7 linked regions of the Homo sapiens genome follow. The protein of the gene in region 1 purifies or fractionates together with the protein of each later gene. This does not show direct contact. Each region holds a gene or a part of one and is shown in the gene's direction. Other genes may lie near its edges.

What was found.
Region 2: the proteins of TLR4 (region 1) and OPA1 purify together in Homo sapiens (affinity purification with western blotting, with the first as the bait; one study listed by BioGRID). This does not show direct contact.
Region 3: the proteins of TLR4 (region 1) and PRKCZ purify together in Homo sapiens (affinity purification with western blotting, with the first as the bait; one study listed by BioGRID). This does not show direct contact.
Region 4: the proteins of TLR4 (region 1) and TRIM69 purify together in Homo sapiens (affinity purification with western blotting, with the first as the bait; one study listed by BioGRID). This does not show direct contact.
Region 5: the proteins of TLR4 (region 1) and TICAM1 purify together in Homo sapiens (affinity purification with western blotting; 3 studies listed by BioGRID). This does not show direct contact.
Region 6: the proteins of TLR4 (region 1) and STK11IP purify together in Homo sapiens (affinity purification with mass spectrometry; one large-scale study listed by BioGRID and IntAct). This does not show direct contact.
Region 7: the proteins of TLR4 (region 1) and TRIM44 purify together in Homo sapiens (affinity purification with western blotting; one study listed by BioGRID). This does not show direct contact.

Annotation. Positions count from the first base shown.
Region 1 is NC_000009.12:117,721,403-117,725,235, forward strand, and holds the end of TLR4 (toll-like receptor 4 isoform A precursor), read left to right. Parts: 3' UTR 1-3,333; downstream 3,334-3,833.
Region 2 is NC_000003.12:193,641,708-193,645,207, forward strand, and holds part of OPA1 (dynamin-like GTPase OPA1, mitochondrial), read left to right. Parts: intron 1-1,057; coding exon 1,058-1,138; intron 1,139-1,267; coding exon 1,268-1,342; intron 1,343-1,665; coding exon 1,666-1,737; intron 1,738-1,820; coding exon 1,821-1,920; intron 1,921-2,267; coding exon 2,268-2,398; intron 2,399-3,500. UniProt on the Homo sapiens protein: Dynamin-related GTPase that is essential for normal mitochondrial morphology by mediating fusion of the mitochondrial inner membranes, regulating cristae morphology and maintaining respiratory chain function.
Region 3 is NC_000001.11:2,147,911-2,151,410, forward strand, and holds part of PRKCZ (protein kinase C zeta type), read left to right. Parts: intron 1-961; coding exon 962-1,014; intron 1,015-2,879; coding exon 2,880-3,068; intron 3,069-3,500. UniProt on the Homo sapiens protein: Calcium- and diacylglycerol-independent serine/threonine-protein kinase that functions in phosphatidylinositol 3-kinase (PI3K) pathway and mitogen-activated protein (MAP) kinase cascade, and is involved in NF-kappa-B activation, mitogenic signaling, cell proliferation, cell polarity, inflammatory response and maintenance of long-term potentiation (LTP).
Region 4 is NC_000015.10:44,753,528-44,757,027, forward strand, and holds part of TRIM69 (E3 ubiquitin-protein ligase TRIM69), read left to right. Parts: intron 1-1,372; coding exon 1,373-1,849; intron 1,850-2,840; coding exon 2,841-2,936; intron 2,937-3,500.
Region 5 is NC_000019.10:4,815,432-4,818,572, reverse strand, and holds the end of TICAM1 (TIR domain-containing adapter molecule 1), read left to right. Parts: intron 1-56; 5' UTR 57-94; coding exon of another isoform or gene 95-98; 5' UTR 99-195; coding exon 196-2,334; 3' UTR 2,335-2,641; downstream 2,642-3,141.
Region 6 is NC_000002.12:219,604,357-219,607,856, forward strand, and holds part of STK11IP (serine/threonine-protein kinase 11-interacting protein), read left to right. Parts: intron 1-1,251; coding exon 1,252-1,378; intron 1,379-1,599; coding exon 1,600-1,703; intron 1,704-1,838; coding exon 1,839-1,934; intron 1,935-2,119; coding exon 2,120-2,161; intron 2,162-2,355; coding exon 2,356-2,502; intron 2,503-2,622; exon of another isoform or gene 2,623-2,627; coding exon of another isoform or gene 2,628-2,696; coding exon 2,697-2,781; intron 2,782-3,500. UniProt on the Homo sapiens protein: May regulate STK11/LKB1 function by controlling its subcellular localization.
Region 7 is NC_000011.10:35,812,775-35,815,640, forward strand, and holds part of TRIM44 (tripartite motif-containing protein 44), read left to right. Parts: 3' UTR 1-2,866. UniProt on the Homo sapiens protein: May play a role in the process of differentiation and maturation of neuronal cells. May regulate the activity of TRIM17. Is a negative regulator of PAX6 expression.

The DNA of each region.
Region 1 (3,833 bases):
TTACATCTTTTCTATCTTCTTCTAGCCTCTTTTTGCAAACTTCATTTTGACAAAGAATTCCAGGCAGTCTACAGCTGATTTTATTTCAATACAACGATTAAAATGGAAACCATATATGAAGATGACAAAGTTGAGCAGGTCCCAAACTCTCACTTTTAAACAAATGCTTGGCTTAAGAATCACTTAATGACTTTCATTCTGCTATCTATGTGTCTGTGTATCTAGGTACTAATTATCTATCTTTATGATCTTTATTGCTAGAAATTCTGGTTCAATATCAGAGGTTAGTCCTAAGGAATTTATATTTTAAAATATTCTCCCAGTTTTCGTGCACAGACAGATTTGGGAATTACTGTTATAATGGAAAATGGAGAATAACCACCCACATTTAATATGGTTATTGGTTTTGTTCTTGAGATTTATTGCTAAGATTCATGATAGCCCAGGCAAGGTCAGATAATGTATTTTTATTTTACACTGTATAGTTGATTCTTCTCAATCCCACTAGATCAGACTCTTTGGGATACTAGGATTGGCCTATTTGATGGTGAGCTCACTACATCCATTTAGATGTTGTGTCCATGCAATCATTTTAGTTCTCCTAGTTTCTACCTATCACGTTGTCATTTTCCCTTCTTTATCATCCTGGGTAGCTGAGACCCCACATAAATATATACCAGAAAAATGTTGTGGTCTTTTCTAAACTCTCTGAGGCATCTGTTGTCAATGTGATGTTGTTTTTTGTTTCCAGTCCAAAATATATCAAAGTAAAATTTAACTCCACTTTTGCTAAGTATTCATCTTGCCTTGAGTACTAAGATTCCAAAAATGACTTTCCCCTCTGAAAAACACAGGATTTCCTTGCGAAAACTTGCTGGGCCACTGCCAATCTTCCCAGAAACTCCTTTTTCCTTATCGTTGAGGGGAATTGGGGAAGTGATCACTGACGGTTGAAATTCAGTAGTTTTGGTCTTTAAGCTGAGACCCTGAGTCTTCTGAGGAGTCTACTGCTCCCCAGTGGGAAACACCTGCTGTCAAAATTTTCCTGCTTGCAAAGAGCACTTTTGAAATTAATGGCAGGGGATGAATATCTGGCTAGTGCTGTGCTCAGCTGAGTTATTAATAGGGCCTTCTGAGTCCTCTCTACACATCATCTTTGGCTGAATTAGCTGTGGTTTCAGCACCTGAGAGTCTAGCACCACTAAAGGCAGGGAATACCTTTGCCAGTTTCTGGCATATTAACAGCTGAGATCAGATAAGTGAACAGCGATAGAGGTAGTGAGGTTTAGGATTCAGGTCTGCCACCGGGAGCGCACCTCTGGGCTCAGGTCTCTCATTTGTAAAATGGGACATTTAGGTCAGATCAGCATTTTCAAAAGTGTGACATGTTAGTAAATAAGATGATTTTATGTGGTTGACAGATGAATGTATTACCTTTAGTGGTTATATGTTTATTTTCATGGTTACTTTTATTTATAATAAATTTTGTGACTAGCTAAGAATCAATTATCTCTTTAAAATATATTTAAGTTTAAAATGTGGGCCAACTTAGGAAAAAAACGGGATGAAATGAATTATATAAAAGGTATGCAGATTTGGAAAAATTTTGAAGGTGTCACAAGAAAGATTGGCAGTCAGAAAGGAATGAACCAAACGGCTGCTGAGGGTCAGGCCAGCTCTCTGACATTCTAGCATGTTCACATCTCCAGGGCTGTTTCCTTACCTATAAATTGTGGCAATTGGAGTAAATGTCCATTCCAGGAATTCTATTCTATGATTAGAGGTGTAACTTCATCATCCAGATTTTCCAGCATCCTTAACATGTGGTTTTAGCGTTCTAAACCTGATGATGCTATATCAAAACGGGAGACTCATTCGTCAAGTCATGATGTATCCATGTATTTATAATATTTCCCATGTTCCCTCATTTCTGAAAAGGATTAAGCTATCAACCCCATTGAGTTATAGGTGAAAGGCTGTGGAAACAAGACATTGATAGTGAAATGGCTCCACCACTAACAGGCTGTTGAACAAAGGCAAATCTCTTGATCTCTTTGCTCTTTGGTCTCTGTTTATCTATGAGATAACGTTATTTTTACGCTGTCTTCTGTGAAAGTTTTGAGAATGAAATGAGACAGAGCCTCCAATAAAATTTAGGGAAGTGCTACATAAATGCAAGGAGTTATTATGATAACAGATTGAAAACTCCTCCAAGGAGGAGTTTCTCTTTTGCCCCATGTTATAAACTCAAGAATATCTTCCATTTTGCCTACATATTCCAAAAGCTTTTAAATTAAGCTATATGTCATTCTTACAGGAGTCTCCTCTATTTCAGCAATGTGTATACTTGGTCAGTTTTAATTATCTTAAAGGAGAAGAATACAGTTTCTCTAAACTCAAGCACTTTTGTGGACTAATCCTTGCAATTATTCTTTCTTCTTTCCCATACTTGACATTTAAAGTGATATCTCCCAGGCTCCTACACTGTTAGTCACAGAGGTACCATTCGACCCCTTGTGCCTCTTACCATATGTGAATGCTTGTCAGTTGAGAGTAAACTTTCTTCATAAATTTCACAGTTGTGGATTGATAAAAACAGAGAACTCTGGTTCCTCATTCCTTCCTGCTTTCTTTCTTGAAATGCCATTCATGATGGTCCCTTATATCACTATAGGGCTGCTATCATCCTTCATCCTTATGCCACTGCAAATAGCAACCAACAGTGTCCTTAGTGCCAGCACTCCCAGGCATGCCCCTTTCCAAGCAGCAGGGTCAAGCCGCTCCCTTCCTGAGCTGTGGCATCTGTCTCTAAATCATGCTTCCTCCTTGCCTGCTGCAGGCCCTTGTCTCTGCCCTTTACTTTTTCTGGCTCTTGCCACGGTTTTGAATAAAACTCTTCCAAATATCTGAAGCTCAATTCTGTTGCCATTCTAAGCTCTCTAAATGTCACCACAATCTTCCTTCCTTTGCATTTTCTTATTGTGCACTAAGTTAGTTCTTGCTTAGTAAGTCTTGTCTTTCTCTCTGCTTTGACCTGTCAGTATTCCAACTTCCTTATTTTTTGATGTTCATTTTCTCCTTGCTCTCTTTCTTCCTTTCTTGTCTGTGAACTCCATTAACCGCTTCTGCATGTGACCATTAATGTGCCTGTCTTTCTTCTCATGTATTAGAGAGAACAAAAGCTTTGGGAATCAGACAGATCTGTGTTCTGATCCTGTCTTATGGTATCTGTCTTGTTTGTCTCGGCTTAAAATGGGGATAATATCTACCTCTCAGTTTTGTTGGCAGTTCAGTACACGGAAATAAAGTTCTCACTTTCTTTTTTCTCCTTGAGAGTGTTCTTTATTTTACTCATCTGGCCATCTAATATTTATGAAGAAGCTACTCTGTGGTTGAAAAGGCACATGAAGCTGCAGAAGTAAATGACCAAGAAGTGCCCTCAAAGTTACGGAGTTCAGATTCATTTTGGCAAGAGAGGCATGTCAATACACACACACACACACACACACACACACACACACACACACACACAATGTTATGCCAAAATGCAGGGTGGTGGGGAGTGGAGGGTTGTTCTTCCTAGAAGCAATCAGAGAAGGCTTTACAGAGGAGGGCCCATTTGAGCTGGAAATTGTAAAAGAACAGCTCTGCAGATGGATCTTTAAATTCTTAACCTAAAAGAAGAGCAAAAATGTAAATGATAAATCTGGGAAGTAATAAGTAGAAGACCATGTATAGCAGAGTTGAGGAAAGAAACAATATAGTATAAATACTGAATTACATGAAAGCTAATAGTTAATTGGCATCAGTTGACCCTGACAAAGACATTTATC
Region 2 (3,500 bases), on another chromosome or scaffold:
CTCAGTAGAAGGAATTGTATTTTTAAAGTAAAATAACTATAGAGAAGCTAGAAAGGTGTCAATTAGGCATTTAGAAGTTCTTGTGAAACCACTGACTGTTAATATACATTGCTATAACATTTCTTGGCTGGGTGCAGTGGCTCATGCCTGTAATCCCAGCACTTTGGGAGGCTGAGGAGGGCGGATCACCTGAGGTCAAGAGTTCAAGACCAGCCTGGCCAACATGGCGAAACCCTGTCTCTACTAAAAGTACAAAAAACTTGCCAGGTGTGGTGGCGGGCATCTGTAATCCCAGCTACTCGGGAGGCTGAGGCAGGAGAATCACCTGAAACCGCGAAGTGGAGGTTGCAGTGAGCCGAGATCATGCCACTGCACTTCAGCCTGGGCGACAGAATGAGACTCGGTCTCAAAACAAACAAAAAAACAAACAAAACAAAATTTCTTACCCAAATATCACTCCTTGAGTGAAGCCTGTCGTAGCTCCCTTATCATCAGTTCCATTCTCTTCTGTGGCACCCTAGGTTTTGTCACTCTCTTCTATTATGTCTGTGTATATTTCTCCCAGCATGTGATGAGGTCTAAAACTGGGACAGTCAGCTCTGTGTTTCCCCACCTACAACACCTGACACATAGTTCACTCTCTATAGAGGTTGAATGAATGAATTGTCCTTTACCTAAATTCATCTTTGAGGTTAAATGCAAGGTTTCCTTTTAGTGTTTCAAGTTTTAGAGAGATGATTTTGGGCTTAGTGCTGTGTATAGCATTGACTGGGGAAAGAAAGAGGCAGCAGCATTTTAGGTCATAAGCGATATAAAGGAACCAGCATTCTTGTTGGGAAATCACAACATATATGACATATATACAAACAATACAAATACAAAATTATTGTCTTGTCAGAACTACCATGTTGACAGCTTCAGGGGGTGCCCCAGCAGTAGTGTGAAGGGACTCTTGGATTTGTGCAATGCAGTAGCCCTGTCTAGACCACATACGGGCTGTGGGAATTAATATTACTTATAAATACATCATTACCTCTCAGTTTTCTGTTACTATCAGGTGACTCTGAGTGAAGGTCCTCACCATGTGGCCCTATTTAAAGATAGTTCTCGGGAGTTTGATCTTACCAAAGAAGAAGATGTAAGTAAAATTCATCTAAGGTTGATATGTGTAATTTTATAACCTGGATGAGCTTATAAAAGACAGTTAAAGAATATTTGTGAATTAAGATTTTCTTAGATTTTCTTAGGATTTTGTGTTTTCCATTAGCTTGCAGCATTAAGACATGAAATAGAACTTCGAATGAGGAAAAATGTGAAAGAAGGCTGTACCGTTAGCCCTGAGGTAAGGGTTGCAATTCATTTCAGTGACGTTTTATGGAAATTAAATGTTTATGATTTCAAATAAATCAAAATCTAGGTATTGATGTTTAGATTGCTGCTATCTAGATATGTAGAGCTTTTAAAAAAAAATCCAAATAATATATCATTTTGTGGGTAATTTTCCAGAATAATTACTTTTAGGATCAGAGAAAGAATACCATTTTTGTGAGCGTCTTATCTGAATGGATGAGATATAGAATTTTTAGAATACATTTCACCAAAAAAAATTCTTGACAAATTCCCCCCAAACTTTAGCATTGTTTTATTTTTATTTTTCCTGAGTAGACCATATCCTTAAATGTAAAAGGCCCTGGACTACAGAGGATGGTGCTTGTTGACTTACCAGGTGTGATTAATGTAAGTATATACAAAACATGTATTTTATTTTATTCTTATTGTGTGAAGCATTTATAATGACATTTAAAACCTTTTTCTTTAAGACTGTGACATCAGGCATGGCTCCTGACACAAAGGAAACTATTTTCAGTATCAGCAAAGCTTACATGCAGAATCCTAATGCCATCATACTGTGTATTCAAGGTAAATCATATCAAAAGATTTTAATGTACTGATATGTTTTCTTCTTTAGCAATCCAAGCTTTGCATTAAATAGTTTGTGTTATGTAAACATACAAGATAAATGCATTTTTGCCTTCTCTTCGTATTCATTTTATTAGTAAATTAAATTGAAGTTGAAATTATTTTGATAAGTTTTACATAAGCATCATTGAAATTTTTATCGGCTAGGATTTCTTTTTAGTAAATAACGTAAATGTATTAAAATCTTTCTTGCTATAATGTAGACACAGGGGTATAATTTGTACTGAGTTTTAAAAGTCTACTTTACATCTTAAAATTCCACAGTGTCATTTTTTTATTTTTTTCAGATGGATCTGTGGATGCTGAACGCAGTATTGTTACAGACTTGGTCAGTCAAATGGACCCTCATGGAAGGAGAACCATATTCGTTTTGACCAAAGTAGACCTGGCAGAGAAAAATGTAGCCAGTCCAAGCAGGGTGAGGTCAAATTCTTTGTTGCGAGAATAGATTCTTTGTAAAAGCTCCAGCTGTGATAGGGATTTGTTATTTAAAAAAACAACAACAACAACAAAAAAACACCTTACAACTAAGATTTATTACAATGAAAGGATAAAGCAAAATCACAAAAGGAAATGGTACATGGTATGAAGTCTGAAGGAAACCAGGCTCACGTTTTTCCACTAGTTCATTCCCAGTAGACTCTACTGGGCACATTTAATTCCTCCAGCAACAAGCTGCTTGTTAGAGACTCAGCTCCTAAGGTTTTCATCGGAGGTTAGTCATTTCGGCACCCTCATGTACCAAAATTATTTCATACTCCCAAAAGGAAAGCATATGTTATAATTAAACCACATTACTTCAGTAGTGAGCCACTGTTATATAAGGAAAGGTTTATATCAGTGTAGGGAACTGTTTACCAGTTAAGTTTTCAGATACCAGCCAAAGACAGGCAGGCCTTTTTAAGGACAGTAGTCTCAGGCCTGCTGTGTTAACCCTTTTCTAGGTAGCCACCATAACCTCTGTTCTGCTTTCTTTTTAAGGGTAAGGCCTGCCGTGGCATTAATGGTTCTGATATGGAGAAGGGGAGAAGTGAGGTAGAAACAAATTTCTGTGGCCTCCTCCCCATCTTTCTTCATTCCTTTCATTTCTTTCAACTCTAGGATAGTGAGTTTATATTTCTTCTGAGATGCAACTGAAGCTTATTTCAGTCCTTTTTGTATAAAAGATTCAGCATTAGCTTAGGTGTAACTTGTCTTAAAGGAGGGATTCTCATCCCATTATTAATCTGAATGGGCTTCAGGGGGTAGAAACTCTAACATATGTGAAAGGTCTCTATGCAAATATGCATTTTTCTGGGTACATAGTCTTTTTTTTTTTTTAGTCACATTTAGAAATGGATTTTTGATCCTAAAAGAGTTGAGAAGCAGTGGATCCAAATATTAAAGAAGAAGGTGGGAGGGGAGGAAGGAGTAAAAGAAGACAATCCAGCTTGGTTAGAATTTAGATATTTGAAGAAAGTATGGAAAAATAATAATAGCTACCATTTATTGAGTGCTTCATGCCTGGCACTGTATCATAT
Region 3 (3,500 bases), on another chromosome or scaffold:
CTGTTGTCCACTGACCTCTCCGTCTATCCATCTATCTATTGTCCACTGACCTCTCCATCTATCCATCTATTGTCCACTGACCTCTCCATCTATCCATCCATCTATTGTCCACTGACCTCTCCATCTATCCATCCACTGTCCACTGACCTCTCCATCTATCCATCCATCTATTGTCTACTGACCTCTCCATCTATCCATCCATCTATTGTCCACTGACGTCTCCATCTATCCATCTGTCTGTTGTCCACTGACCTGTCCACCCATCTGTCTGTTGTCCACTGACCTCTCCATCTTTCCGTCTGTTGTCCACTGACCTCTCCGTCTATCCATCTATCTGTTGTCCACTGACCTCTCCATCTATCCATCTATTGTCCACTGACCTCTCCATCTATCCATCCATCTATTGTCCACTGACCTCTCCATCTGTCCATCCACTGTCCACTGACCTCTCCATCTATCCACCTATTGTCCACTGACCTCTCCGTCTATCCATCCATCTATTGTCCACTAACCTCTCCATCTATCCATCCATCTATTGTCCACTGACCTCTCCATCTATCCATCCATTGTGCACTGACCTCTCCATCTATCCGTCTTCTATCCAGGCCTCCATTCATCCCCCATCTAGTCATCCTCCATCCATCCACCAGACATCCACTCCTGCCCCTACCCACCCATTCACTAGACACCAAAATCCGGTGACGAATTATTTGCAGATGGACCCCTGGGGACGTATGTCACGAATGTACATCCCCAGGTCCCATGGTCAGAGTCGGCAGGTGTGAGTGGGGCCCAGGAAACTGCATTTTCAGAAGACTCTAAATTAGAATCAGACATGGCTGCTGTGTGGATTCACCCTTCACCGTCACCCTGCAGAGGAGCAAGGTCCACAGGGTCGCTGTGTTCCCAGTGCGTTCCTGACCACACCGTAACGCCCCTTCCTTCCTCCCTCTCTCACCAGTTGCTTACATTTCCTCATCCCGGAAGCATGACAGCATTAAAGACGACTCGGAGGTGAGTGTGTGGAGCAGCTCGCTGCCATTTCCGACGTCCTCTGGAAAGTCTGTGAGCCTGTCTCTGGGGTAGTCACGGAAATCTAGATGTGAAATAGACATGGTCCGGGGTGTTGCTAACTAATCTTCACGGGTGTGGATGTCTAGAAGGAAGTCCTTATTCTTGGGTCTTACTTCAGGCATGTCCTTGATGAATACCTGCAGGCAGCTGTCCCCGCAGGTGGTCTGGGGACCACACCCTGCGGGGGAAGCCGTGCCCCACATCCTCTCCATTCAGGTGGTACAGTGGCCCAGGGGCTGGCTTTTGAGCTGCAATTTTTATCAAGTTGTGTCTGCACCATGCCTTCCGAATTGTGTTGCCTCATTTGGCCATCCTGGCAAACCCTCTGAAGCCCTTTCATGTCCTTCCCCAACTTGAGCCAAGAGGCTCAACTGAGCCTCACGTCTGTGGCCAGCTCTGCACCATAAACCCTGAGAAGGGAACAGAAGAGCTTGCTGCGTTCTCAGCCTCTGCTCGTAAAACCCAGGGAAGGACTGCACTAGCGAAGCCCACTCCTTTCCAGAGCACCAACAAGTGTCACCCTCACAACTCGTGCTCCTTCCTGGCCATCCTGTGTCTGGAGGGAGGCCGGGGCACTTAGAAAGCAGAATCTGAGGCTGAGCACGGCGACTCACACCTCCAATCCCAGCATTTTGGGAGGCTGCGCACATCGCTTGAGTCCAGGAGCTCGAGAACAGCCTGGGCAGCATAGCGAGACCCTGTTCCTACAAAAATAAATACAAAATAATTAGCTGGGCATGGTGGCACGGGCCTGTGGTCCTAGCTGCTTGGGAGGCTGAGGTGGGAGGATCGCCTGAGCCTGGGAGGTGGAGGCTGCAGTGAGCTGAGATCGCACCACTGCACTCCAGCCTGGGCGACAGAGGAAGAGTCTGTCTCAAAAAAAGCAGAATCCGGCTGGGCGCGGTGGCTCACGCCTGTAATCCCAGCACTTTGGGAAGCTGAGGCGGGCAGATCACGAGGTCAGGAGATGGAGACCATCCTGGCTAACACGGTGAAACCCCGTCTCTACTAAAAATACAAAAAAAAAAAAAGCTGGGCGTGGTGGCGGGCGCCTGTAGTCCCAGCTACTGGGGAGGCTGAGGCAGGAGAATGGCGTGAACCCGGGAGGTGGAGCTTGTAGTGAGTCGAGATCGTGCCACTGCACTCCAGCCTGGGCGACAGAGCCAGACTCCGTCTCAAAAAAAAAAAAAAAAAAAAAGCAGAATCCATTTTGCCGCACAGAACAGCACCTCCCAAGGAACCGCCTCCTCCACCCCGACCTCCTTGCCAGGTGTAGCTTGCGGGAGGCAGAGGCTTCTGTTCTTCCTCGGAGCGCCTTTCTCCTGGGTATTTCTAATAATTATTTCTAATAATGTGTGCCTGCCGGTTTGGGAGCTCTTGGCAGGCATTAGCTGCATTCGCTTTACCTTCCTTCCCCTGAGGGAGGGCACTGATCAGGAAGGATGGGCCCAGGCCCTGGGCCACATGTCCCTGTGGCCACCTCTTCAGCCCCACTGATAGGGCTGAGGGCCTGGGGGTCCCTCCCACCTGCAGCTGTGACCAGAGCCATGGTCTGTGGAACGAACAGCTTCTAGCTTTCTAGCACCTTCCTCAGAAGCACACAGCCTTAAATTCTTACCTTTCATGCCCCAGTTTAGATGGGAGTTTGGGGGTGGGATATGTGGGACGCAGAACTGAGACTCGAATCATGAGGCCCTGGGCTCTGAGGAGCAGGTCTCTGTTGGGACCGCATGAGTGATGCGTGGTCCTCTGAGTCTCCCGGGAACCCCCCTCTCACTTTCTGGGGTCTTGTTCTCCCTCCCTAGGACCTTAAGCCAGTTATCGATGGGATGGATGGAATCAAAATCTCTCAGGGGCTTGGGCTGCAGGACTTTGACCTAATCAGAGTCATCGGGCGCGGGAGCTACGCCAAGGTTCTCCTGGTGCGGTTGAAGAAGAATGACCAAATTTACGCCATGAAAGTGGTGAAGAAAGAGCTGGTGCATGATGACGAGGTAGGTGCCGCTTCTCATGGGGCCCGGGGGCCCGGGAACGCGCTGCCCTGGGGCCTCCTCCGGGCTTTAGCGGAATTAATCCATGCACGAGAGACCTAGCCTCACGTTGACGGAGTTTGTGCAAAATCAATAGTCATGCATCGTGTAATGACCAGGATGTGTTCTGGAAAGTGCCTGGTTAGGTAATGGCACTGTTGTGTGAACATCACAGTGTGCACTCCACAAACCCAAACAGCACAGCCAACTCCACAGCCAAGATGCACAGTGCAGCTCCTGCTCCCAGGCTGCAAGCCCGTACGGCTGTTAGTGCACTGCACACTGCAGGCAGTGAGGGGACCACCACGAGAGCACTCACGTGTCTAAGCTTAGAAAAGGTGAAGATGGGTATCGTGGTCTCTGCAACCTTCTCATGTATGGCCAACCACTGATACG
Region 4 (3,500 bases), on another chromosome or scaffold:
TGAGAATCCCTTGTATGTGAAGAGTCATTTCTCTCTTGCTGCTTTCAAGATTCCTTCCTTGTCATTGGACACTTCAATTATAATGTGTCTCATTGTGGATCTCTTTGAATTTATCCTGCTTGGAGTTTGTTGAGCTTCTTGGATGTAAAATTTCATCATATTTTGGAAGTTTTCAGCCATTACTTTTTCAAAAATTTTTTTTTTTGAGACAGAGTTTCACTCTTGTTGCCCAAGCTGGGGTGCAGTGGAGTGATCTCAGCTTACTATAACCTCCACCTCCCAGGTCAAGCAATTCTCCTGTCTCAACCTCCCAAGTAGCAGGGATTACCAGTGCCTGCCGCCATGACCAGCTAATTTTTTGTATTTTTAGTAGAGACAGGGTTTCACCATGTTGGCCAGGCTGGTCTCTAACTCCTGACCTCAGGTGGTCCACCTGCCTCGGCACCCCAAAGTATTGGGATTACAGGCTTGAGCCGCAGTGCCCGGCTGCTTCAAACATTCTTTCTGCATTTTTCTCCTTTCTTTCTGAAATTCTTATTATGTCTGTTTGATAGTGTCTTGTGGATCTCTTAGGCTCAGTTCATTGTTGGTCATTCCTTTTTTTTTTTTTTTTTCTGAGATGGAGTGTCATTGTTGTTGCCCAGGCTAGAGTGCAATGGCGTGGTCTTGGCTTACTGCAACCTCTGCCTCCTGGGTTCAAGCAATTCTTCTGCCTCAGCCTCCCAAGTAGCTAGGATTACAGGCGCCTGCCACCACACCCAGCTAATTTTTGTATTTTTAGTAGAGATTTTTAGTAGAGATGGCTAACCATCCTGTGTTAGCCAGGATGGTCTAAATCTCCTGACCTCGTGATCTGCCCGCCTTGGCCTCCCAAAATGCTGGGATTACAGGCATGAGCCACTGCGCCTGGCCTGAAATGTGTTTTTTTAAAAAGGAGTGAAGGGGACCCTGGATGGTTGACGATATCACACTACTGACTAAGGAATCTGATTGATTTTCCAATTCTTTGTATATAATTTCTAGAAAACAAAAATAAAATAAAGGTAATAACTAGTAGAGCAGAAGTTGAAAAATAAAACTTTCAAAAGACACTTGGGGAAAGTGGGTAAAGAGAGAGATGTACAACAAAGTACATTTCTTTGATTTAGTACTGTTTCTTCCTCTGCCTTGATTCTTTATTAAAGTTTAAATAGCATCATACGCTATAATTTCAGAAAACACTCAAGTTACTGGTTCACTTTCAAAGGAGAGATTATGTGCTTTTACTTTAGTTGTACCAATTTTCAGCTCCTTTAGGAATGGCGCCATCATCCTGGAGTGTTAAAATGGGCAACAAGAAAGATAAACTCATTTTAGCTGTTCTTTTCTAAAGGTATCCACCAACCCCTCCTCCAACATCGATCCAGGCGACTATGTTGAAATGAATGATTCAATCACCCACCTACCCTCTAAAGTGGTGATACAAGATATTACTATGGAGCTACACTGCCCTCTGTGCAATGATTGGTTCCGAGACCCACTGATGCTAAGCTGTGGCCACAACTTCTGTGAAGCCTGTATCCAAGACTTTTGGAGGCTGCAAGCAAAGGAAACATTCTGTCCTGAGTGTAAGATGCTATGTCAGTATAACAACTGTACATTCAACCCTGTACTGGACAAGTTGGTAGAGAAGATTAAGAAGTTACCCTTACTCAAGGGCCATCCACAGTGCCCAGAGCATGGAGAGAACCTGAAACTGTTCAGTAAACCAGATGGGAAACTGATCTGCTTTCAATGCAAGGATGCTCGGTTGTCTGTGGGGCAGTCTAAGGAGTTCCTGCAAATCTCTGATGCTGTCCATTTCTTCACGGTGGGTGAGCCCTGGGCCTTGAACAATCCCTTAGAAAAACTAGGAAAAATATTTCATAGGGCTTCTTCTTTCTTCCAACCCCATCCCTTTATTCAAATGATGATTAGAAAGCCCAGACTGCTCAGAAAGTACAACGTATCTTGCAAAGTTCTTTTTCTAGAGTTGCTGCTTATAGGAAAGGAACAGTGGAGGAGCCCTGGCTTACTCCCTCAATCAAATCTGTACCTAAACTCTGCCATGGTAGCACTCTGCTAAACACTGTGTAGAATATGGATAGATAAGATATTGCTCTTGTTATAAAAAATTCAAAATTTGGTTAAGTTTAAAATGAAGAAAACAACAGAAGCAATATTAAGATAGCCTCGTGTTAAAAGTTAAATTTTGTCACATTTGTAATTCTTAAGGGTTTAGAATTTCTGAGACTATTAGAGAAAAATGAAATAGGGGACATATAGTGAAAGAAAGGGAAAGGACTTGAACTGGGAAATCATTTGGATTTTGAAGGGCAGAAGGAAGAAACAAATGTTCCAAGTGAGAACAACACAAGTAAAATGATAGATGCTGAGAACAGTATATAACTAGAGTGGAAAATGTGTAGAGTTCTATTCCCTTCTTCAAATCCCTGTAGCTAGCTACTAAGAGAGAAAAACTAAGTTTTAAGCTGTAATTTACTCCATAATTCTTTTTTTTTCTTTGTTTTGAGATGGGTCTCACTATGTTGCCCAGGCTGGTCTCAAACTCCTGGGCCCAAGTGATCCTCCCATCTCAGTCTCCCAAAGTGCTGAGATTACAGATGTGAGCTGCCACACCCGGCCTTTTCTTTTCTTTTTCACAATTCTTGAACGAGACAAGAACTATGATACAGGGGAAGGGGAAGATTTTTGCAGCAAGAGCTTGCTTTTTTCTTGCACACTGGGGCCTTGGGGAAGATGTCCTTTATGGTCCTTCATCTCCCGAGTTAGTCTGGGTTAATTCTATTTGATATTCCCAGGAGGAGCTTGCCATCCAACAGGGTCAACTGGAGACAACTCTGAAGGAGCTTCAGACCCTGAGGAACATGCAGAAGGAAGCTATTGCTGCTCACAAGGTGAGGAGCAAGAAAGAGGGGTTATGAGATAGAACTGGAACACACCCTCCATGTAACTTCAGCTATGGGTACAAAGGTGCCTAACATATATTATCTACACACTAAATGGTACCTAGGCTATGGAATTGGAAAACTGAGTCTGTAGGGTGGAAAGGAATATGGTGGTGGAGTAGGTTCCTAATAGCTGATCAACAGAGCAGATTAACCTTTCCCCTAATATGCTGATCTTTTCGATAGTTCAGTCACCAGGTGACTGTCGTGGCGTTGAAATGTGTCTGGTCTTTGGCTTTATCTATGGCAAAAAAAAAAAAGGAACTTATTAGAAAAAAATCAATCACTAAAGATTGCTATGTCCAAAGAAATACCTTTATTTCCTTTGAGTTTATAACCAGACACCTCTGGACTAGGTCTCTAAGGTCATAGGCTTTTCCCAGCTGATTTGATCTTCTTAGCTTCCTCCAAGCTAAATAAAGCTATTGTCTGCACTTTCAACTTCATAGGCACTCTAGGACAACATTAATGGCTAGAGCTTTGGCAAATCAGTCCCTAGATTGGGGGTGCTAA
Region 5 (3,141 bases), on another chromosome or scaffold:
TTCCCGTGCTGACCTTTCTTGGGGGTAAGTGTGTTTGCTTCTCCTGTTTCCTACAGATCTGCTTGGGCAGCTCCTGCAGAACCTGGAACAGTGAATGGGTAGGGGACACTGGGCGTGCAGAAGGCGGGGGGCAGTGTGGAACATGCCTTCACCACCTCCAGCTTCTGCTGCCGGAGGCTGCACCCACCTGTGCCCATGGCCTGCACAGGCCCATCACTTCCTAGCGCCTTCGACATTCTAGGTGCAGCAGGCCAGGACAAGCTCTTGTATCTGAAGCACAAACTGAAGACCCCACGCCCAGGCTGCCAGGGGCAGGACCTCCTGCATGCCATGGTTCTCCTGAAGCTGGGCCAGGAAACTGAGGCCAGGATCTCTCTAGAGGCATTGAAGGCCGATGCGGTGGCCCGGCTGGTGGCCCGCCAGTGGGCTGGCGTGGACAGCACCGAGGACCCAGAGGAGCCCCCAGATGTGTCCTGGGCTGTGGCCCGCTTGTACCACCTGCTGGCTGAGGAGAAGCTGTGCCCCGCCTCGCTGCGGGACGTGGCCTACCAGGAAGCCGTCCGCACCCTCAGCTCCAGGGACGACCACCGGCTGGGGGAACTTCAGGATGAGGCCCGAAACCGGTGTGGGTGGGACATTGCTGGGGATCCAGGGAGCATCCGGACGCTCCAGTCCAATCTGGGCTGCCTCCCACCATCCTCGGCTTTGCCCTCTGGGACCAGGAGCCTCCCACGCCCCATTGACGGTGTTTCGGACTGGAGCCAAGGGTGCTCCCTGCGATCCACTGGCAGCCCTGCCTCCCTGGCCAGCAACTTGGAAATCAGCCAGTCCCCTACCATGCCCTTCCTCAGCCTGCACCGCAGCCCACATGGGCCCAGCAAGCTCTGTGACGACCCCCAGGCCAGCTTGGTGCCCGAGCCTGTCCCCGGTGGCTGCCAGGAGCCTGAGGAGATGAGCTGGCCGCCATCGGGGGAGATTGCCAGCCCACCAGAGCTGCCAAGCAGCCCACCTCCTGGGCTTCCCGAAGTGGCCCCAGATGCAACCTCCACTGGCCTCCCTGATACCCCCGCAGCTCCAGAAACCAGCACCAACTACCCAGTGGAGTGCACCGAGGGGTCTGCAGGCCCCCAGTCTCTCCCCTTGCCTATTCTGGAGCCGGTCAAAAACCCCTGCTCTGTCAAAGACCAGACGCCACTCCAACTTTCTGTAGAAGATACCACCTCTCCAAATACCAAGCCGTGCCCACCTACTCCCACCACCCCAGAAACATCCCCTCCTCCTCCTCCTCCTCCTCCTTCATCTACTCCTTGTTCAGCTCACCTGACCCCCTCCTCCCTGTTCCCTTCCTCCCTGGAATCATCATCGGAACAGAAATTCTATAACTTTGTGATCCTCCACGCCAGGGCAGACGAACACATCGCCCTGCGGGTTCGGGAGAAGCTGGAGGCCCTTGGCGTGCCCGACGGGGCCACCTTCTGCGAGGATTTCCAGGTGCCGGGGCGCGGGGAGCTGAGCTGCCTGCAGGACGCCATAGACCACTCAGCTTTCATCATCCTACTTCTCACCTCCAACTTCGACTGTCGCCTGAGCCTGCACCAGGTGAACCAAGCCATGATGAGCAACCTCACGCGACAGGGGTCGCCAGACTGTGTCATCCCCTTCCTGCCCCTGGAGAGCTCCCCGGCCCAGCTCAGCTCCGACACGGCCAGCCTGCTCTCCGGGCTGGTGCGGCTGGACGAACACTCCCAGATCTTCGCCAGGAAGGTGGCCAACACCTTCAAGCCCCACAGGCTTCAGGCCCGAAAGGCCATGTGGAGGAAGGAACAGGACACCCGAGCCCTGCGGGAACAGAGCCAACACCTGGACGGTGAGCGGATGCAGGCGGCGGCACTGAACGCAGCCTACTCAGCCTACCTCCAGAGCTACTTGTCCTACCAGGCACAGATGGAGCAGCTCCAGGTGGCTTTTGGGAGCCACATGTCATTTGGGACTGGGGCGCCCTATGGGGCTCGAATGCCCTTTGGGGGCCAGGTGCCCCTGGGAGCCCCGCCACCCTTTCCCACTTGGCCGGGGTGCCCGCAGCCGCCACCCCTGCACGCATGGCAGGCTGGCACCCCCCCACCGCCCTCCCCACAGCCAGCAGCCTTTCCACAGTCACTGCCCTTCCCGCAGTCCCCAGCCTTCCCTACGGCCTCACCCGCACCCCCTCAGAGCCCAGGGCTGCAACCCCTCATTATCCACCACGCACAGATGGTACAGCTGGGGCTGAACAACCACATGTGGAACCAGAGAGGGTCCCAGGCGCCCGAGGACAAGACGCAGGAGGCAGAATGACCGCGTGTCCTTGCCTGACCACCTGGGGAACACCCCTGGACCCAGGCATCGGCCAGGACCCCATAGAGCACCCCGGTCTGCCCTGTGCCCTGTGGACAGTGGAAGATGAGGTCATCTGCCACTTTCAGGACATTGTCCGGGAGCCCTTCATTTAGGACAAAACGGGCGCGATGATGCCCTGGCTTTCAGGGTGGTCAGAACTGGATACGGTGTTTACAATTCCAATCTCTCTATTTCTGGGTGAAGGGTCTTGGTGGTGGGGGTATTGCTACGGTCTTTTAATTATAATAAATATTTATTGAATGCTTCCGCAGCGCCATTGTCTTCTGGGACACCTTCTGCCTGGCTATTTGTTATAAAACACGTGGCTCCCGCTCCCGCAAAAGGGAACAGGAAGCGGGAAGTGCACGCCTCTTCTTGGAGGGCATAGACCGGCCTTTGCCCTCATCCCATTGGCCAGAATATAATCACATGGCCCTGCTCCTGCCGCAAGGAACCCTGGGAAATGTAGTCCTTTCTGAACGGCCGTGTGCCTCCCGAGTCGGGGTTCTAATACCAGGAAAGGTGGAGGGAAAAGATATTGTTGAGGGCGGGGAGGGTGCAGCCTGGGCAGCATGGTGAGACCGCGTCTCTTCAAAAATACAAAAGTTAGCTGGGCGTGGTGGTGCACGCCTGTAGTCTCAGGTACTCAGGAGGCTGAGGTGGGAGGATTGCTTGAGCCCAGGAGCCGAAGGCTGCAGTGAGCTATGAATGAATGAATGAATGAATGAATGAATGAGTGAGCGAGTGAGTGAATGAATGAATGAG
Region 6 (3,500 bases), on another chromosome or scaffold:
AGGAGCCTGAGTAGGGTTTGATCAAGGTGAGAACCTCCTCTAATTCAGGGAAAGAAGAGACACTCCTCTTTCCCCTGAACAATATAAATCCTTTTCTTCCTTGATCACCTTTTGTTCACTAAAAACCAACTGAGCCATTTATTGGGACTTGGTAGTGGATGAATTTTGCTGGATGGTGAGAGTGACCAGGCATTTAATGGGGGACATTTCTATGGAAACAAAAAGGGAAACAAAGATGAATGGTTGGAGCAGACTATAAATCCATTTTCTGAGTCCAGAGGGCAGCCAGTTGAGATTTCTAGGTGTTGAGCTCTATGTTTCTTTAGATGGTGGAATGAGGATAGCAGTGGCAACCGATGGATTTCTTCGTTTGTAGTTTGAATGTTTGTGGTGATAGCATAGACAGTGTTGCAGTCACGGTTATTTCCCTGAACAGAGCCTGGAAGATACAGAAGTGTCAGTGGACTTTTTTCCTTTTTTTTTTTTTAATGAGACAGAGTTTCGCTCTTGTTGCCCAGGCTGGAGTGCAATGGCACGATCTTGGCTCACCGTAACCTCTGCCTCCCGGGTTCAAGCGATTCTCCTGCCTCAGCCTCCCAAGTAGCTGGGATTACAAGTGTGTGCCACCACGCCCAGCTAATTTTTGTATTTTTAGTAGAGACGGGGTTTCACAATGTTGGCCAGGTGAGTCTCGAACTCCTGGCCTCAAGTGATCCCCCCTCTTTGGCCTCCCAGAGTGCTGGGATTACAGGCATGAGCCACTGCACCTGGCCGGCTGGGCATTTTAAAAGAGGGCGGCGGGGAGTGGGCAGGGGAATGGTAGGGCCTTGAGCAGAGCTGGGGGAGTGGAAATCAGGTTGGTCCACATGAAACCCATCTGAGTTTGCTAACTAACTGGCACTTACCAAAATAAGGCCCTTACCCTTTCACAGAGACTGGGAGACGGGGCCCTATCTTCAGGAGTTGGCTGAAACAAATGGGAAATTCTTTTGGCAGCTTTGACTTTTCCCAGGCAGGAATTTAAGGGGCTTGGAGTTGCCATGCTCAGGGTGTGGCCTTGAACTGTTAGGAACAGTGCTGGTGTTGTTCAAGTCTTTTAACGTGGGAGTAGGGGTGGATGAAATCATTTGTGCTGAGTGTGTGCAGTTTTATATAGGCCAAGGTTGAGGCCTAGTCCAGAAGAGGTCTCAGAGGACCCTGGCTAGAGTTTGGTCAACGAGATAATCTTTTTCTCCCCTGTACCCCTGCCAGGATTTGTGTGAGCTCCACCATCTGGACATCTCCTATAATCGCCTGCATTTGGTGCCAAGAATGGGACCCTCAGGGGCTGCTCTGGGGGTCCTGATACTGCGAGGCAATGAGCTTCGGAGCCTGCATGGTGAGTGGGGGTGTGTGATGGGGCAAGCATGGAGGGGAAGGGGGAGAGTGAGGCTGGGGCTGGCCTGGGGACCATGTGCCTCTAGAGCCTTGAGAGGGCTTATGGGGAGTGCAGGGGTGCTCTGGCCGGTCTTTCTGCTGCAACCTCCCCCAGTGCATGCACCACACTCACTTGCGTGTACTCATCCACATGCTCTTCCTTCCTTCTTGCGTCCACCCCAGGCCTAGAGCAGCTGAGGAATCTGCGGCACCTGGATTTGGCATACAACCTGCTGGAAGGACACCGGGAGCTGTCACCACTGTGGCTGCTGGCTGAGCTCCGCAAGGTGAGATGGGAATGCATCAGGGGCCTGGGAACCACCCTTGCACGTACCCCCCCATGCTGGTTTGGTCAGTGCCTTCTTCACACAGGGAGGGCCAGGGCCCCAGGCCCTCCTCATTCTCCCCTTCCTGCCCCTCAGCTCTACCTGGAGGGGAACCCTCTTTGGTTCCACCCTGAGCACCGAGCAGCCACTGCCCAGTACTTGTCACCCCGGGCCAGGGATGCTGCTACTGGCGTGAGTGATCGTCCTGTGTCCACTCTTCTTCCCCTTTCCTGCCCAGTCCTCCCCCACCTTGCACCCTCTTGCCATCCCTGGGTGAGGGGCCAAGGACCTGGACCCTGCTTACTGTGTTCTTAATACCTGGAGCTCAGCAGGATGGGCCTACCACATACTCCCTCCCCCTTTTTGTCTTTGCTCAGTTCCTTCTCGATGGCAAGGTCTTGTCACTGACAGATTTTCAGGTCGGTGTGGTTGGGGGGCGAGGACTGTTGGGGGAAGACACGAAGGGAGGGCGCTGGGGAGAGAACAGAGGGCTGGCTGGTGACAGGGTCTTCCTGGTCAGTGGAAAGTAGGGTCCCGCCTTTTGGCTGGCTTGGGCAAGGCAGAGGTGCTCCCAGGCTCCAACCTCTCTCTCCTTCCTGTCGTCACGTGCCAGACTCACACATCCTTGGGGCTCAGCCCCATGGGCCCACCTTTGCCCTGGCCAGTGGGGAGTACTCCTGAAACCTCAGGTGGCCCTGACCTGAGTGACAGCCTCTCCTCAGGGGGTGTTGTGACCCAGCCCCTGCTTCATAAGGTTAAGGTAAGCAGCGTCCTCCGCTGCCTTGTGCCTGCGGTTGGGTGTCTCTCCGGGGACTCTGGGCTACAGTGGGCAGGGAATGGTAGGAACTGTGCTTGCACGTGGTCAAGGTTTCTTTGATAGGTTGGATGGCCAGCCGTGGATGGCAGGGCTGGAGGCTTGGCTTTCACAGAACTTCTTCCCTCCACCAACCTCAGAGCCGAGTCCGTGTGAGGCGGGCAAGCATCTCTGAACCCAGTGATACGGACCCGGAGCCCCGAACTCTGAACCCCTCTCCGGCTGGTAAGTCAGCTTCATCCCACTAACCTCTCTCGTCCCCAGCGAGCTCACTCTAATTTTTAAGTTACAGTGAAGATCTGCTGGAAGAAATGTTATTTTTTGTTGGGGTAGAGTATTATAGAGGGCTTCTTAGTCTTTTTTCTTTTCTTTTAGTTTAGGGAAAGGAGAAGACTGCTTCTGGGAGCATTTTGAAAACTTTTCGAGGAACATTAATTTTGTGGGGTGTCAAGAGATCATGTAGGCCAGGTGCAGTGGCTTACATCTGTAATCCCAGCACTTTGGGAGGCTGAGGTGGGAGGATTGCCTGAGCCCAGGAGTTTGAGACCAGCCTGGGCAACATAGAGAGATGTCCATTTCTACAAAAAAATTTTTAAATTAGCCTGACGTGGTGGTGTGCGCCTGTAGTCCTAGCTACTTGGGAGGCTGAGGCAGGAGGATCGCCAGAGCCTGATAGTTCAAGGTTGCAGTGAGCTATGATCATGCCACTGCACTCTAACCTGGTGACAGAGTAAGACCTTATCTCTTAAAAAAAAAAGTAAAAAACCCCAAAACAAAAGAAAGTGTATATGTATATATATAAAATAATAGGATTGTGGCCAGAGAAGTTTGAGAAATGTGAGGTTGAAGAGAAATAGGTGTGTCAGCTGCCGGCCGTCTCGGGCCCTTCAGGATGCTATCATGTATGCTGAGTCTCTGGAAGTAGCATAGGATGCGCAGCTTGG
Region 7 (2,866 bases), on another chromosome or scaffold:
TGCTTTGTATAGCCTGTAAAATGCAATGTACAGTGAGGGAAAGAAAGTCTAAGGGTAGCAGTCAAATCTTCTGGCCTGAAACTGTACTTTTGGAAGGGAGAACTGTTAGACTTGCTTTATCTTCTTTATTCCAAGGCCATAAATAAGAAAATCAACGAGAGGCAAAACCATGTCTTCTTTTGCTATAGCGTTAGAATCCTGAAAGTCAGCCAGCTCTGACACTGAGTCTGTGATTTAATTAAACATGTTGAAGGCTCTCCAACAGCTTGACGTCAGGCCAGCTTCATATTCTTGGAAAGGGACAACAGCAAAAGGAGCTTATCTGTTTTAAAGTTCACTTACTGAGTTCAGCTGTCACGGCCACAGCATACCATTTGCCTTATAAAAATGGCCCACAACCTTCACAATATTTTAGGATTCATGGCAACTCATTTACCTAGGGCTTAGCCACCTGATAGCTTTACCTATCCCTATTTCCTGAACACAAAATCTAAACCAGTGGTTTGACAATGAGTAACTGAGACAGAACTAGAAAAATCTAGAACCTCTGCTGAACCCATCAAAAGTGACTGAGAATTAAGAAGTAAGCAAACAAGGCTTCCAACCAATTGAAATAAATACCATGAAGCAAACGCATAAGACAAAGGCCATACATCTAGTCATCAGGCACCTCCTCAGAACCTATTTGCTCTTCCTTCACACATATTTCTAACTGTAAAGGAAAGAAACAGACTTTTAGAGGAAACAAGAAGGAAAAAGGAGGACAGCAATAGAGAAAATGGAAATTTTGAGTAGACTGCAAAGCTCCAAAGCCCTGATATATGGGTTATTTAGTGTCAAAAACAGTCTATACACATCTCAATCTTTAAGAGCCTCACTGTATCATGGGACAATATTCTATTTAAAATGATGACCCTGTGCACCATACATAAAAAAACTATGCTTAGAAGACAAAAATATGTATATCAAACATTTTAGAAATATTTACATCCCAATGGTTAAAAAAAAAAACTTTTAGGAATTAAAAGGAATAAACCTTTGACCATCCAGAATATTTAGCTAAATCAAACAGTGTATATCCCCCTAGCTGACTTTTATTGTTTCATGAGCCTCTGGTGTTCAGAGAGTTTTTTTCACAGCTTTGTAAGTGACTTTCATGCTACAGTGCTTTGCATATAATGGCATGAACAGTGGAGGTGCCAACTTTCCAATGTGATGAATAAAACTAATAACTAGAATACAGATCAAATTCTGTTACAACAAATACTGCTACCATAAAAGTCACTTAAGCATCCCTGTTAGTTCTAAGCCCCTGTCGATTGCCCATTTATTTTAGGCAATAGTCATTCAACAAAATTGGAGCATAATAAAAAGAAACTGGACCTCAGCGCAAGTTGAGTGTTACACAATTTAACCTGTAATAACAGGTTCTCACTTGTATTTCTCCAGCTCTTTGCTGTAAGAAGAATAAACGTTATGTAGATATAATACCAGCGTGACAGCTTGTGGTTGGTGGTTTCTAGAAGAAATAATTCAGAAGCAAAAGACACATGAAGTTATGTGGCAGTTCCTCACTAGGGAATTTGGTCTCCAGGGCCACTTTTGACCTTAATCCATGTTGGAGCCATCAATCAAAGAATTGCTTGCATCTAATAATGGTGTAATGCCAATACTAAGCCCTGGAACGAAGATAGGATTCATTTCTCATGGATTATTGAGCACTCTGGGGTAACCTGGCCCTGATCTGATGACGCTAAGATTTAAAAACCCAGATGCATGTGACTAGAACTATCTTTTCTCCCATGATGCACTGCTTTCAACACTGCATGACTGTAAAAACATGTGCCACGCTGATTATATATAGAGATGGTCTAAATCAGCTGCATCCCATTTGGTACCCAGGCAAGGATTTTTCCATACCTATCTTTTTGCTGGTGGTAATGATGAGTTTTGTCACTTGCTATAACATTCTCTGTCCGTCTTTTTTCTTTTATGTAAATACTTTTGTGACTTCATTGTAACCAGCATTTTGTAATACTCTTAACAGCAGAGGGGATTAAATCATGATTCACTTCTGAACAGTACAATCAGCAGTAGGAAAACGAGGAGGGAGGGAGAGGGAAATTGTCCACCACTTCCCAATGATAATGCCTGGCTCGGACCCCAGATTCACATCATACTTGAAGTTCATAAATTCTGGGCACTGCTCAGCTTGAGGAGGCAGGCATTGCTCCTTCATATTTCAGGGTGAGACAAATGCTCTGTTGAAGCCATGCCACTACAGGATACATTCACCTCTGCTTGCTTTCCTCCCTAAGCCAGAGTGTAGTTAAACATTTATATGTCCCAGGCCAGGAGATCAAATTAAGAGGAGGTTAGCTACTTTCCCTGGCTCTTAAAAACATTTGAGTCCAAGTATGGTTCTCTGGCTTGAGGGTGGCCATTTGTTGCCTCACTGTTTTTATTAGGACATCTGGAGATTAGAGGTGTTAATTGGAAGTAACTTTTCTATATTTGGTTTCTCTCCACACATTATGAGACCTTTTAGACCCAGTTGGATGGCTGTATCCTAGTATGAAATTCAGCTTCTAAGTAGGAAGAACTATGATAGAGGAACAAGATTGCTCTTTGACTTGGTGATAGTAGGGCAATAGGGAGTGTCAGTAGGGTAGTTTCAGGTGGGGAGGATGACAAACCACTGATAACAATAAAAATGGGTATTTCTCAACACTCAAGCCAATTTCCCATTTGATAACAAGTAGGTTCTGATCTATTTTCCCCAAATTAATATTTTCCCTGGAAGATTCTGACCTGTCTGATCAAATAAAGGCATTCCTCTGAGAGTATACCTAGCCCACTTGTGGCC